4 linked regions of the Homo sapiens genome follow. The protein of the gene in region 1 purifies or fractionates together with the protein of each later gene. This does not show direct contact. Each region holds a gene or a part of one and is shown in the gene's direction. Other genes may lie near its edges.

Region 1 (3,922 bases):
CATGGGCTGAATTAGGCCTGATACCTGTTTTTGTGGATAAAGTTCTATTGGAACACAGCCACTCCCACTTGTGTGTGGCCTATAGCTGCTTCCACGCTGCAACAACAGAGTTGAGTCATTGCGACAGAGACCATATGGTCCGCAAAGTCTTAAAAAATTTACAATCTCATCTTTGGGGGGAAATATTTGCCAACCCTGTTCTCTATGTATCTGTCATCTACCAAGGTTGTATCTTAACTGTGCAAACCAGCTTGATTAAAATGATCAGTCAGGCTGGGCGTGGTGGCTCACCCTTATAATCCCAGCACTTTGGGAGGCCGAGGCAGGTACATCACCTGAGCTCAAGAGTTTGAGACCAGCCTGGCCAACATGGTGAAACCCTGTCTCTACTAAAAATACAAAAAAATTAGCCAGGCGAGGTGGCAGGTGCCTGTAATCTCAGCTGCTTGGGAGGCTGAGGCAGGAGAATGGCTTGAACCCGGGAGGCGGAGGTTGCAGTGAGCCGAGATCGTGCCACTGCACTCCAATCTGGGTGACACAGCAAGACTCCATCTCAAAAAAAATAAAATAAAATAAATAATAAAATGATCAGTCAGAGAACAAGAAAACTATGTGAAGTGTGAGTGGGAAAATGTGGGGCTTTTTGTGGTTTTTGTGTTTTGAGGTCTGCATGTTATAAAACTTAAGATAGGTTTGATTCCTGTAACTAGGAGACTCACCACCAAGGGTCAGCTGCTTTATTGATCAATTCTAATTTGGCAATTTTGCAATCCAGTGCCTTTTCAAGTGGAGATCTATTTGCTATGCCTTTCTAAAAACCCCAATTCAGAGGAGACGTGTTGTCTGTTTTTCAGCATTGTATGTTTCTAAGCCAGAGAGATGTAAGCTCTAGAAGGGAAGATTCAATATTGTGTAATTAATTAACAAGATAATACTGATAAATCATAATAAGACACAAAATATTCATAATAAAATTATTTAAATAACTTTATAGCTATGTATTAGCTCATTTCTCTATTTCATTTTTTTAAATCATAATTTAATAATTCTGGATGAATGAACTGAATATTTTTCTGTATTTAATCAAAAGCAAAGTTCTGCCCTGATTTTTCCCTTTTCAGGCTGTGGCACACAGCCTGGTTAAGAGTCCTGGGCTGGCATGGAGCCCCAAGTCCCAGTCTTACTTCCCAGGTTGAATTGAGACCTATGTGATTTAGCTTTTTCCAGACAATTGCCTCCACCTTAGAATGAGAAGCTGTGAACTAGATGCGAGTCATTTTTCAAGCCTCGCTCATCACTGGAATCTCCTGGATGGGTGGGAGTGGACTAGAGATGGGAGTCTCTCCACAAAGATCAATTTCTAGCCTATTTTCCCCCAAAACCTGCATGCTAATTTAGTAGTTTCTGGAGGGTTCTCATGTATGTTGTCAGTCAGCCAGGTTGGAAGGCCGTGTTCCCAGTAAACTCTAAGAGCCCTTCTGATCCTGACCCTGAGAGGTCATTGCTTTGAAGTTGGTATAATGATAAAAAACGATTTATTAACTATGGCCCTGTCCCTGGACATTTGAGCCAGCAAAGGAGCACTTACTGCTACTGCCTCTACTGCTGCCGAATGACGATAATTCTGTCTGAATTGGGGCCTCCTTTTTAGTTGAGAAGTTATATTCATACAGAAGTTAATTTCACCCTCTTAGCAATTCTTTGAAGGGAACCAGGAGTTAATATCTCTATTTATGAGTGACTTTGAGGCTCACGGTTTAAGGGACATTCCCAAGTTAACGTTAGAACTCAGGTTTTCTAACTCTAAATCCAGGTCTCTTTCTATTATAAACATTCATGCAAATAAAAGAAGGAAGTTATCCAGTATGGGCAGAGGATATAGGGAGGGAGGAAATTACTGAAAAGGGCCATTTACAAAACAACAAAACCCACCCTTCAGAAGGCCCAGCCCAAGTTGAGAACTGGATTCTGGCTTGTCCCATAGAGGATTCGTGTGGGACTTGGGTCTAAAATAATAAGCTTGGATGGGAAGGAAGGCTTGGGCTTGGGTGGGGTAAGCGAGGTGCCTCTGGGCATGCAACAGGTAAAGGGCACTTATTCTCAGGGTCCTGCAAGTGCAGGGTCAGCCACGGAGCACGAGTGCCTCTTTAAACGCTGTGTCTGGGTCCACTCCTGGCCTGGTCGGAGGCAAAAGAACCTGTGCGTGTTGTGTTGAATGGATCCTTAACTTCCTGACTCCCTCCTTACAGAACAGATTTAAGACTTGTTCAGGTTTAGCTAATGAGTGTGAAGCAGTAGGGCTACTGGCATCCAGCAGAGGGTGATTTTTGATTCTTAAAAATAAAACAAGTTCTAAGTTGGTGGATGCCATCTGCACCTGCCTATGGCTTGATCTCCCTAGCTGGTCAGTCCAGGCATGTCACTTCACCTCTCTGAGCCTTCACTGTACTGCCGAAAGTGACACAGCATCACAAGTGGAGAGGACACCACCTCTCCTCGGGACTTCTAAAATGTAAGGGTGTAAGAATTTAAAACTCTCTGTGATGACTGGAGCCAGCCACATTTGTGGGGTTAACTCCAAATTTACCTATATGTTGTTTATTACAGTTAATTGCCAATTGTTAGGCTACTGAGGGGCAACTTAAAGGGAATGTAGCAGCTGTGGAAGTAAAAATGAATGTCAAAAAGCTGGTACTTGCTCTTAAGTAATTGCTTCTAACTAAGATTTGTGGTGATGTTCAGCTTGTGAGTTTCACGTTTCCTAATTGGCAGCATCACACATTTGAAAAATCACTTTAATGAAGATTATTGGTACATAGGCCAAGGGCAAGTGAGTGGGCATGGAAACTGTCATATGTCTGTTCATTAATGACTTGTTTAAAGGGCTCTCTGCCTGGTGACCTGGGAGAAGAAACTGATTATCTACATGCAGAAGGCAATATTTTTGCAAAATGTGCTGCTATTGATGAATATCTACTATGAAGAGAAATTGTCTTTCTGAAAAGAAGCTAATATGAATTCTTAAACAGATATTTACAGCCTGTCCCATTTCTCCCAGTTTATAAGGGACTGGGTCTCCAGCACCATGAAACGTTCCGTTCACCCATGTAGGTGTCCAGCACAAAGTCTAATCCTGCATAATCATCACAGAGGTCTAGGCACGGTCCCAGGGAACTGAAAGACCCACTGCTTACTGCTTGACCTGTAGCCAGGTCTCCTGGGGCAGGGCCTTAAGCTTCACTGGGAATTCATGGTATTTAAAATATTTTTTCATGAAGGACTTTCCATTTGGAAACTTACTGTTCTGTGTGCCCTGCTAGATCACTTGCTGGAATATCCCTTCACTAATGAATGGAGGTAAATCATTCCATTTTACTACCTGGTTGCCCTTAGAACCAGTACATTCCCCTTTCTTCTCAAAATGAGGCACATTTATTTGTTTGGACTGTCTCCAGCTGGCTGGCTTGGTTATGACTGCATTTCAGACATGTTGGCTGCTGCTTCTCCAAGAAATAAATGGGCACCGGAGGGCAGCAAGCAGAAGGAATAAGGAAAAGGAATGAAATTGCTGCAATAACCTTGAGGGCGATGTCTTTCTGCCTCCAGGCGCCCGTTTCCACCCGGAGACCGAGTCACATTCAATGGGAGAGACTGCCTTTGTCAACTCTGTGCACAGCCGATGTCGTCCAGTCCGAAAGAAACCACCTTCTCCAGCAGTAAGTGCCCCGGTGACCCACTGACGTGAATACCTATGTAGTCCAGAGGTAGCTCAGGCAGGTGCCTTCCTTTTTGAGAAACGCTGTTAGCTGGAAATGAGAGTCATCTATCTACTTGAATAGATATTTCTCCAAAGATGACATTAAAATGGCCAACAGGTACATGAAAAGGTGCTCAATGTTATAAGTCATCAGGGAAATGCAAA
Region 2 (3,922 bases), on another chromosome or scaffold:
CTGTCTACGGAGGCCCTGAGGGCGGCGCTGGTGTGTTTTTCCTCCAGCCTCCGGAAACCCCTCAGTGATCTCCCATAACATCACAGGGGCTGCATGGGCTGCGGGGCTGGGGGCTGACTTCCAGCACTTCCCTCCCTGGCAGCCGGGAAGAGCCGCCCCTCTACCAGAGATGGAAATGGCAGGGCAGACAGCAAATAATTGGCTTCCGGGATCTGTGGGGTGTAAAGAACCAGGATTTTTCTCACTCGAGTGGAAAAAGTAAAGTGCCCGGCAGAGTAGGGCAGGCAGCCCCTTCCAGAGAACCCTTCCCGTGCTCCTCCAGAGGCCACACCAAACTTCGAATTACATCTGTTGGCAAAGGATCATGCCCTGCTCAAAACAAACACGTGATGTGATGTGATGTTGTATGGAGAACCGGTGATGGTGGGGAAGGTGATCAAGAAAACACGCTAGTCGGGCTGCCCAGCCCACCGGTGGCCGAGTGCCAGGGCCCACTCTGCCAGCCAAGCCATTTCCACCCGAGGCCCCTCCTGCCCCACGGCCAGCTGACAGGGCCTCCCAGGCCGCTGCCTCTTTTGATCCAAGCTGGCACCTGGCCCCTCTCACACGCAGCCCTAAGGGGACACTCAGGTGCCACCAGCCCCTTGGTGATAGGCCCACCTTGGAGCTTCCCACTGGCTTGTCCAAGCCATTAGCAGCCACCTGTGGGGTTGTTTCCACACTTCCAGTAAGAGTGACCCACCCCCAAGATGCCCAAGACACAGGCTGGTGCACCGTGAAGACTGATTTGAGAGTCGAAGACATGGGCTTTAGTCCCGGCCCCATCATCTGCCCTCTTCGGCCCCGTTGTCCTCCTGGGTGGTCCCTGAGGCCCAAGAGCTCTGCGCCTGAGCACCACTTGGGGAGCGGAAGTGACTCAGTGGTGAGGTGGCTGGAAGCGGGCCCACCTTGTGGCCTCTTTGCCCCGAGAGACTTCTGCTTGACTGCGGTGGCCAGGGCAGGGGGCAGCCCTCTGTTCCTCAGGCGTGGGAGAAACAACCCCTCCTTCCAGAATCAGAGAGCAGTGCCCACTTCATTTAGGCAAAGGGTGGAAGTGGGGAGAGGAGGGGCTGTGAAAACACAGCGATGCAATCCCAGGAGGAATCCGCCCTGCACCGCTCCTCTGGCCGAGAGGAGAGGATCTCCACTCATGAGCGGCCAGGCTGGGGGCCCCAGAAAGCCTGACCTCATTCCCCAGGGGCACGGGAAGGAGCCAGGGCTAGAAGAAAAGGAGCTGATGTGGTGAAGGTGAAAAGAGCCACCAGACAGCCTAACTGAGGGGTCCAGGGAGCCCAGCGGCTCAGATGTTGGAGTTCGGCTCCAAATCCTCAAACATCGGCCCCACTCCCACCCCCAGCCAAAACAGTCACTTTGCCCTCTAGCTGGGGGTAAGCCTAATAACTGAAGACTCAGGTCCCAAGGCTCATCGAGAGCGAGGAAAAAGCCTTCTGTTTCTCAGTAGGCTAGGTTGATGGATAGCTTGGCAGTTTCCGTGAAGGACAGGCAGCTGTTCTGGGTGTTAGAATTGATGTACAGGGTGGCATAGCTGGGCATGGCTCTCATACATGCACTGCCCATGTTTGATCATGTATAATTTAGTGATTGTGTGTGTGTGTGTGTGTGTGTGTGTGTGTGTAGAGCACTGAGTCCCAAGGTCAGGCCCAGCCCTGTCATAGGCCAGCTTTATCACTGGGATGAAGTCCCTGGTACTCCCTGGGGTCAGTCCCCTCATCCAGGTGGACCAGATGATCCCATGGGATGGCATCAGAGTGTAAGTTTCATGACAGTGGGGTCTCTGTCTGTTTCTGGCACTTAGGGGGTGTCCACTAAGTCTGTTCAGTGTGCACATCTGTACTGTACCATGGTATCGTCAGAACCTCACGCAGGCATTCCGTAAACATGCAGAAAGATGCCTGTATTCAACAAACAGCGATGGGGCGACTGCCAGGTGCCCGGCTCTGTATGTCTATATATGTCTAAGGACTGAGGAAGCTACAAAGAGCTCAGATGCTGCCCTTTCTCTCAGGGAGCTTACTCTTTACTAGGACACATAGGATTTGTGCCCAAGTCACTCAAAAAAAGACTAACAGTGATAAGTGTCTTAAGGGAGTTCCCAGCGAGAGAGTTTGGGGGTGGGCTGGGCTCTTTTCCTGGCTTTCCTTCTTTGCTGCTGTTCTTCGAAATGCGTCCTCGGTTTCAGCCACAGACAGGCTCCTGGTTCTTGCTGGCACCCGTTCCCTGAACAATCTCTCCCAGCCTCGAAGATGTGACATGTGGGAGCTGGCAAATCTGACGGCACCAGATTTGCCTCTCTGGGCTTCACAGCTGTATTTCCATCGGTGTCCTCAGTGTCTCCAGGTGGAGACCTGCAGGCACCTTCTTCATGGTTCAGATGAGACACCTTCCCCTTCACCTGAACCCAAGCTAAAAAATGGGTTATTCTGAGTTGTTGCCCCAGCCCACACTTTTCAGTCAGCCAACATGTATGGAGTTCCTGTTTTTAGGGAGGAAGCACGCTAGTTGGAAGGCAAGCCTGGGTGCTTTCTGCCCTCCCAGCAGAAATAAGACGTGCACACCTGAGACGAGAACCGAATCATCCAGGCAGATGCCACAAAAGAACAAATGCACGGCATATACGGGAGATTGGATGGGAATCCCGGGAGAGAAAGGGAGCATTTCAAGTTGGGCAGTTCAGAAAGGCTTCAGGGAGGAGCTGAAGGGTGGGGAGGAGTTGGATGGGGTCAGTGAAGAGGGCAGGAAGGAGTGCTGGGAAAAGTTGGACAGCAGGTCCTGGGGGAAGAGTGTTTGGTGGTGGGGGAGAGAGATGGCCTGCAGTTGAGGGAGCCCTAAGCCAGAAAGGACCTGAGTGCTCCATAAAGGACACGCGGTTGTGTCTGGTTGACATTGGAGAGACCTGGGAGGGTTTGTCAGGAGAAGGCCTATTTGCCACTTGCCCCTGGAGATATTCTCTCGTGGCCTTAGCCCATGTTGAGAAACCTCTACTTTTAGAGAGTGGGAGGAAGAAAATGAGCTTGTAAAGGAGCCAAGAGGAGCAGTCCAGGACACAGGCAGAGAACCATGATGGTAATGTCATGGAAATTGAGAGGAGAAAGTTCCAAGGGGGAGGAAATGACCCACCGCGTTGACTGCTGATCAGCAGAGTTAGCTCAGGATTCATGGATCAGAGAAGGCCAGGTTGCAAGGGCCAGAGGGGCTGAGTGGATCAGAAGCAAAGGCGCAGGAGGAGCTGTGTCCTTAGAGTGGGAGGCAGGGCCCAGCTCAAAGGATTTCAAGGCAGGGATGGCCCGTGCTCATTGGGAGGGGGAGGGACAGAAGAGGCATGGGGGGACTTGGGGACAGAGCGGTGGAATTGAGGGAGACTTGCTTTGAGAAGAAAGAATCTCTTTATCGGGAGGCAAGGGAAGGAGAAAAGATGGTTACAGACATAGACTCTGCATTACGAGCAGCTGCATTTAACCTTTTTATAACACATTTATTATTTTTTTAAAAATCAAAAAATTCCAAAAAGGAAAAACATTCACTCACGTGAACTCCTGCCCTGTAGAGATAATAAATGACAAAATGTAGATGAACATTCTTCAGAAATCATTCTGTGTATGTTTGCACAGATTTTTTTCATGTAGATAAGATTACACTATCCATGTTATTTTTATTTTTATTTTATTTTACTTTGAGACATAGTCTCACTCTGTGCCCAGGCTGGAGTGCAGTGGTACCATTGTAGGTTACTGCAGCCTTGACCTCCTGGGCTCAAGGATCCTCCCAGCCTCCCAAGTAGCTGGGACTATAAGCAGGTGCCACCATGCCCAGCTAATTTTTGTATTATTTGTAGAGATGAAGTCTCGCTATGTTGCCCAGGCTG
Region 3 (3,922 bases), on another chromosome or scaffold:
TTGTTCATTTACAGTTAATCCCCATTACCCCCAGCCCAGAGAACCACTAACTTTCTGTCTCTATAAATTTGCCTTTTCTGGATATTTCATATAAATCATACAATGTGTGATCTCTTATGCCTGGCTTATTTCCTTAGTATAACGTTTTTGAGGTTCATCCATGAAGTATTAATTGCATGTATCAGTGGTTCATTGCTTTTTATTGCTGAATAGTATTGCACTGTATGGATATATCACATTTTGCCTATCCATAATACTGCTGTGAACATTCTCCTACAAGTCTTTGTATGGACATTTATTTTCATTTTTCTTGGGTAAATACCCAGGAGTGGAATTGCTGGGTTTATGGTAGTTTTATGTTTAACTTACTACATTTTTTTCACATGTATATCCAGTTGTCCCAGCACCATTTGTTCAACAAACAGTTCTTTCCCTAAAGAAGTGTTGTGGCAGTTTTTTTTTGTTTTTTTTTTTTTTTGCTTGAGATTTGTTAAGCTTCCCTCTCCCTGTGCGTGGCCTAGAAACACTCTGGACAGCGAGTTAGAGCACTCATAGGACTCCCCTCATTTGTTTCCTTTCTCAAGGATCACTGCCCTGCACTGCCTTTTGCTCAGTATCTGAAAACCACTATTGTATTATATGTTGCCTGGTTTCCTGGTTGATGAAGGCAGGAAAATAAATGTGTTCCCCATTATTTCATCATGTCCAGAAGCACAATTAGTCTTGCTTACATTTCAACTTTGAAAATTTACTTCTCTTTTTACTCGTTAATTTCTAAGTTTTCTAAAAACAAAAAATCCTGCTTTTATAACCTGGAAAAATACAAATTATTTTTAATTTAAAAAGAAGCAGAAGGAGCAGCATCCTGGACATAACCATCAGCAGCACAGTATCGTTATTCTTGGAATTCATAAGCATGACATTGTAGATGTGATTTAGGAAACGTTATTTTATAAAATTATTGTAATTTTGAGGGTATTGATTCTATTTAATTATCTCTTTTAAAGAATGCTTGTAAAATGTGTGGTTTTTGGATTTCAGGCGATTGTGGAAAAATGTGACAGACTCGCTGAGAGAATCTGAAATTGATAAGGCCACAGAGCATAAGCATACCCTGGAAGAACGTCAGAGGACTGAAGAAAGGCATCGTACTGAAACAGGCACACCTTGGAAAACCAAATATTTTATTAAAGAGGTATGCTGTACATGTGTTCAAGATAAAAATGTATCTACTTGGCTGAGAACTTTAGCTTACTAGGCTTTGTTGAATTGCTATCACTTATACATCTTTATTTTTAAAAGTAGTATGGCTGTATATAAATACCAACTGTTTTTGAGACCAGCCTGGGTAACCTATAGCAAGACTCTGTCTCAAAAAAAAGGCAGATATACCAAGAACAGATTCTAAGAAAGAAGAGTTTCTAAGTGAGAACATCTATATATCATTAAAAATGAGCTAGGGGGTGGCCGGGCTCGGTGGCTCATGCCTGTAATCCCAGTACTTTGCGAGGCCGAGGCAGGCGGATCACCTGAGGTCAGGAGTTCGAGACCAGCCTGACCAACATGGAGAAACCCAGTCTCTACTAAAAATACAACATTAGCCAGGTGTGGTGGTACATGCCTGTAATCCCAGCTACTCGGGAGGCTGAGACAGGAGAATTGCTTGAACCCAGGAGGCGGAGGTTGCAGTGAGCCAAGATTGCGCCATTGCACTCCAGCCTGGGCAACAAGAGTGAAACTCTGTCTCCAAAAAAAAAAAAAAGAAAAATGAGCTGGGGGGCCTGGCGCGGTGGCTCACGTCTGTAATCCCAGCACTTTGGGAGGCCGAGGCGGGCGGATCATGAGGTCAGGAGTTTCAGACCAGCCTGGCCAACATGGTGAAACCCCCATCTCTACTAAAAATACAAAAATTAGCCGGGTATGGCACGTGCCTGTAATCCCAGCTACTTGGGAGGCTGAGACAGGAGAATTGCTTAAACCAGGGAGGCGGAGGTTGCAGTGAGCCAAGATTGTGCCACTGCACTCCAGCCTGGCTGACAGAGCAAGACTCCGTCTTGGGGGAAAAAAAAAAGGAAAGAAAAAAAATGAGTTCTGGGGTGCCAGTGGAGACAGGGAGAACAGTTAGTACCTTCCCGATCATTTCTCTGTACTCCACCTGCTGCCCATAACTCTGTGAGTGAGGCTCAATCTGTAGCATCTTGGCGAAATTGGCAAAATTGCTACAAATGGTTCTTGCAAAATTAAATGTTCATGGGTCACAAACTAGATCCTCCCATACCATGTCTTCTCACCTAAATCCTAGCTAAACCACAGGCATCGTTTGATGTCTTAATCACAAAGACTTTATTCCTTCACAAAAACTTGTTTTTGAATGTGAAAATAGAATTCCATTTCAGTGAAGGTGTTGCTTCTAGTTTTGGTTACTGATTTTGATAATATTAGAGGGATGATTCTTTATCTTTTTATTTGTTTCAGGGAGATGGCTGGGTTTATCATAAACCACTTTGGAAAATAATTCCAACAACACAACCAGCAGAGTGACACATACTATCTAAAACTCGACCAAATGAGGTTCTTCTCTGTTTACCCTAAATCCTCCCAGAATGGAGTCATTGCACTGAGTGACCTGCTTCCTGATTGCGCAGACTGAAACTAGCTAAACCTGAATGTACCTACTAGGGCACCATAATACTGCAGCAAGACCAAAGTGGTAAAGAAACACAGTGGACCTTTTACCAACCTGTTCATGTGATGTGAGCAATACCATCTTAAAACTTGTTACCTGAATCAGTAGATGAATCTTTTATCCAGTTCTTGCTCCTAAAGTTAAGTTTGAATCCCCTATTTTTGCACAGGGGCAGCAGATACACACAACAATGAGAACTCAGTGACTTTGATTTCTTTGTAGTGAAAAGTGAAGTCTCCGTTTCAGAGTTTGTGTCTTTCTTTCTGTCCATAACTGAAGTATTCACTACTCTTGTAAACCAACCAAGAGGAGGAGAAAGATGACCCAGAAGTGGATTCAGCCATTGTGCCTGAAATCAGTGTTTAAAAAAAAAAATCAACCAGGTTGTGGTAACAAGGCATTCTATTTCTTCAAAAAGACTGTATGCCTGTGTCTGAGGAACTTACCTATTATCCACCTCTGTTGGAACTCTCTTTTAAAAAGTACATTTATAGATTGATCAGAATTATAACCATGGAGAATTTTTTCTTCTGAGCATTTTAATATACTTGAAAACAACATTGACTTGAAAAATTTCAGAACATTTTTCAGTACCTAGTTTTATTAAATATTACACTTGAGAGACACTTTTTAAAAATGTGTTAATGTCAATATGATGAGATTTTAGCCTTTCTCCAGAACTAAGGCATTAAAGAAAATAGCAAATATTAAAAAATAAAACTGTTACTTTTTTCCTTCTTTCTTTTCACCTTTAGGTTAATATCCAGTATTATGTGTTATCCCTTTGGATAAGTATGCTTTATTTTACCTCTGTTAAAAATTAAAATAAATGATTCTATTCATATTTGTCAGTAATTCAAAACTTATATGTGTAACTGAACGCGCATGTAAGGTATGGTTTTATTTATTTTTTTTTTTTTTGAGGAAATTTAAATGCTAAAGAAACAACGAAATGAAAAGGTATCAGGAAAAAAAGATCAGGAAGTTGTATTCAGGTACAAATCTTTTTTTAAATAAGTATTTTGTTGAGGTTGAAGAATTGCTGGCAATTAAAAGAATAGAGCTAATTATGGCTTTCATCATTCATTCATGTATTTATTGAGCACCTACTTATTATGGTGCTCAACACTTGTTACTGCAAGCTACCTTAATTTCCCAAGAGTGGTGCCTTACTCTGTTTTTTCTGATATGGTCTTCCAATCAGTGTGTGTAACATACCTGTTGTTTATCAGCCAT
Region 4 (3,922 bases), on another chromosome or scaffold:
AAAGGCAAACTAAAGACAAAAATAAAATTTGTATATAAAGAGATGGCCGGGCACGGTGGCTCACGCCTGTAATCCCAGCACTTTGGGAGGCCAAGGTGGGCGGATCACTTGACGTCAGGAGTTTGAGACCAGCCTGGCCAACATGGCGAAACCCCATCTCTACTAAAAATACAAAAAATTAGCCGGGCGTTTTGGTATGTGCCTGTAATCCTAGCTACTCAGGAGTCTGAGGCAGGAGAATCACTTGAACCTGGGAGGCGAAGGTTGCGGTGAGCTGAGATTGCACCATTGCACTGCAGCCTGGGCAACAAGAGCAAAACTCCATCTCAAAAACGTAAAATAAAATAAATAAAGAGATGAGTTGTGAGCATTTTGTGTTTAAATAAGAGGAGATCTGGCTGGGTGCGGTGGCTCATGCCTGTAATCCTAGCACTTTGGGAGGCCGAGGCGGGCGGATCACCTGAGGTCAGGAGTTCGAGACCAGCCTGGCTAACATGCTGAAACCCCGTTTCTACTAAAAATACAAAAAATTAGCTAGGCACGTGCCTGTAATCCCAGCTACTCGGAAGGCTGAGGCAGGAGAATCGCTTGAACCCGGAGGCGGAGGTTGTAGTGAGCCGAGATCACGCCATTGCACTCCAGCCTGGGCAACAGGAGCGAAACTCCGTCTCAAAAAAAAAGAGATCCTCATCACACCTACCACTTGTACACTGGAGAATTGAAGGGGAGTTGGGACAGCAGGAAGTGTGTTAGAAGACAGATATTCCCAAGAGCGTGCAGTGTTAGACCAGGTGCTTTGCAGGATAGGCCTGAAATGTTCAGACAAGATATAAGTGGTGGGAGGAGAGGCCAGACTGATGAGTAGGGGAGGTAGTAACAGATAATGCATAACCTTAGTCACTTCTTGCTTCATCTTATATCTCTTACTACCACTGCAGCCTTCTCATTACCTCCCTCCTCCAGACCATCCTGGAAACCACTTCCGTTCTTCCCCGTTCTTCCCCAGAAGACTTATTATCACTATGTTCCCCAGCTTTAAAACATCCAGGGACTTCCCATTGCCCACCAGACAAAACCCAGCCTCCACAGCCTAAGGTCAAGCCCCTGACTGTCTGGTCCTCCTCTCTATACTCAGCCTTATCTTCCTTTTGCTCTTTGTTTCTGTCAAACTCTGGCCCCCTGCTCCCGCATCATCTCCTAAACAGCCTGTGTCCACTCCCAGCAACAGGGCACTCTCTTCTCCAACTCAGCAAGGTTTTTTTTGGCCCCTGCCATAGGTGCTAACTCTCTTAGTCACTGCACATACTGACCTGTGCTGCTTTATATCAGGAAATATCACAGGCTGGGGAAAGTGGTTGTAAGTTTAAGTGCTTGCAGAAATTGACTCCAGTCCCTAAACACCCAGCAAAATGCTGTTCTGACCCCCAGGGCTTCAGAGGCTATTTATTTAGTCCTGGTGTAAGTGCAAATTAATGTCCTTGGTCATACTCTGATGTCCTTCAGCAGAAGGATAGGAATGATTTATTGGCAGTTACTGTATGAATTTTGCTGCTCTGTCAGTGACTTAAGATGGATCACTCTCTGGTAAGAGAAGAATCTAAGTCCTTTCTCTGAAAGCCACTTGTGGTTTTAACATTTCTGGAGCCTGATTATCCATGTCCTGCTCTCAGAGATACAAGGTGTGTGCAGTATAGGTAGATGATATATATGGGAATAGAGTGACACTTTTATTTACACATTTTGCCTTACATTATAAGTAAAGGTGATTTTTTTTTTAATGTAGCTATTTCCATTCTAGAAGTAATTGATTTTCACAGGCAAAAACAGCAGTTATGTTGGAAAAAGAACAAGAAGGCAGGGGCCTAGAAGCGCGTAGAAGTGAATGAGTAATCTCAGGAAGTACTAAAAGGGACCTTGGAGATCAGCTAGTCCAACTGTCCATTTTACAGGTGAGAAAAATGAGATCCAGAATTCTGATTTTCCATATTTCACATAACCAAAACATGAGCTGAGGATTCAGGCCTGACTTCAGTGTAGTTCTTTTGATTCTTATTCCTTTTCTCTTCCCTCCATCTTTTCCTCTCCTGCCCACTCCCAAAGTTCCTGTATTCCTCTAAGCTTTTGCATTTTACTCTGCGCAGCCTTTAGATGGATTGGAAAGCTCTCTAATGTTTCACTGAAAGGACCATACTGCACTTCACCACATACCTTCCTGTGGCTGCCCTGAAGTACTAAAAATAAAGTATTCAAGGATAGCCTACATCTGTAGTAGAACAGTACCTGAATAGTGTCAGCTTTTTGCTGCAGGGGTATTTCAAATTTGACTTTTAATTTAGAGGTAGCTAATATAAACCTTTTAAAAAATTATTCCTAAGTAATCCTTTGCACTAGGAACAAACAAACAAAAAATTACATTTGGGTATATTGACCATGCTAAGAAGAAACTGGTGCCCAACCAGAAGGTGATACATGGCTGTCTTCTAACAAATGCTTCATCATTTTGCCTTGAAGATATATTTTGTGGATATGATTTCACTTTATATTCTAAGGTCATTTAAGTTGAAGTTCACTGCCTTTTATAGTACTGTTTTCCACTTCCCTATTGCTGTTTTAGCATGAGAGAGCCAACTATCCTTAGTGGAACCTCTCTTCTCCACATCACTCTCAATTTATTTCTATTTCATAGGTCCATTGTAAAGCCTAAAAGGTCTCCTTTAGATTCAGGAAATGCAGGAGACCAATAGAGAGGACATAGGTGAATTAAGTACTTTTTTCTTCCTAATTAACAGATTTAAATTCTATCTTTTAAAATGGTTAGTAGAAAGAAATATGCCAGTCTTCATTATCCTTTGCTTATGTCATACATGTGATAGAAAATCATCAGAATGCAGTCTGAGATGAAAGAGACCTTAGAAATTACCTCCTAGTCCAGCCCCTAATATTGTAAGTAAGGAATCTGAGACCCAGAGAAGAGAAAGGTTTTGCTCAAGCTTACCCAGTCAAGTAATGACAGCCACACCAACCTCCCACTGCCAGTCCAGGACTCCTTGTAGTACGTCATCATAAACTTAAAAAAAAAGAACAAGAATGGTTATTCAAACAACTTTTTTCAAAAGCGCTGTTGCCTTCCCATTAACAAAGATTGAGTTATATCAGACTATTTTCCCCCAAATTTAAATTTCTCTTATAAGCTTTGCCACAGCCATTCTGGTAAGCAAAAGTTTTTTGTTTTTTGAGACAGAGCCTCACTCTGTTGCCCAGGCTGGAGTGCAGTGGCACAGTCTCGGCTCACTGCAACCTCCGCCTCCCAGGTTCAAGCGATTCTCCTGACTCAGCCTCCTGAGCAGCTGGGATTACAGGCATTCACCACCACACCCAGGTAATTTTGGTGTTTTTTAGTAGAGATGGGGTTTCGCCATGTTGGCCAGGCTGTTCTCGAACTACCGACCTCAGGTGATCCACCCATCTTGGCCTGCCAAAGTGCTGGGATTACAGGTGTGAGCCACCGTGCCTGGCCAGCAAAAGTTTTAATTACACATTTTTCTTCATTTCTTCAGGTCAGTCTAATAAACATTTTAGTAGACATTTATTAAGCACCAACTATGTGCTTAACACTGTGCTGGCAATACAAAGACAGTCCTTGCCTTCCAGAAAACTACCTTTTATCTGTACTAAAACTACATCAAAAGCCCTTTAGTGGGGCAAAAATGACAGCTTCCATGTTTTATTCTTAGAATGATTGGTGACGTAGATAGAGAATTCTAGTTTCCTTCTCTACCTCATCTTCATTCCATCTACCGGCAATTCATGCTAATCCACAGTTGTTTGCAGGGTTGACAGAGAAGGTGACTATAGCAGAATCAGGCTTGCTAATGGGTGTATTCTACCACTTGTGCTGTCACCTGTTACTGGTGTAATCCAC

Evidence for each region.
Region 2: the proteins of ABLIM1 (region 1) and SCARA3 purify together in Homo sapiens (co-immunoprecipitation; one large-scale study listed by IntAct). This does not show direct contact.
Region 3: the proteins of ABLIM1 (region 1) and OSBPL11 purify together in Homo sapiens (co-immunoprecipitation; one large-scale study listed by IntAct). This does not show direct contact.
Region 4: the proteins of ABLIM1 (region 1) and FAM20B purify together in Homo sapiens (co-immunoprecipitation; one large-scale study listed by IntAct). This does not show direct contact.

The regions. Positions count from the first base shown.
Region 1 is NC_000010.11:114,571,091-114,575,012, reverse strand, and holds part of ABLIM1 (actin-binding LIM protein 1), read left to right. Parts: intron 1-3,606; coding exon 3,607-3,716; intron 3,717-3,922. UniProt on the Homo sapiens protein: May act as scaffold protein. May play a role in the development of the retina. Has been suggested to play a role in axon guidance.
Region 2 is NC_000008.11:27,636,673-27,640,594, forward strand, and holds part of SCARA3 (scavenger receptor class A member 3), read left to right. Parts: intron 1-3,922. UniProt on the Homo sapiens protein: Seems to protect cells by scavenging oxidative molecules or harmful products of oxidation.
Region 3 is NC_000003.12:125,529,134-125,533,055, reverse strand, and holds part of OSBPL11 (oxysterol-binding protein-related protein 11), read left to right. Parts: intron 1-1,041; coding exon 1,042-1,195; intron 1,196-2,475; coding exon 2,476-2,541; 3' UTR 2,542-3,922. UniProt on the Homo sapiens protein: Plays a role in regulating ADIPOQ and FABP4 levels in differentiating adipocytes and is also involved in regulation of adipocyte triglyceride storage. Weakly binds 25-hydroxycholesterol. Interacts with OSBPL9 to function as lipid transfer proteins.
Region 4 is NC_000001.11:179,046,325-179,050,246, forward strand, and holds part of FAM20B (glycosaminoglycan xylosylkinase), read left to right. Parts: intron 1-3,922. UniProt on the Homo sapiens protein: Responsible for the 2-O-phosphorylation of xylose in the glycosaminoglycan-protein linkage region of proteoglycans thereby regulating the amount of mature GAG chains.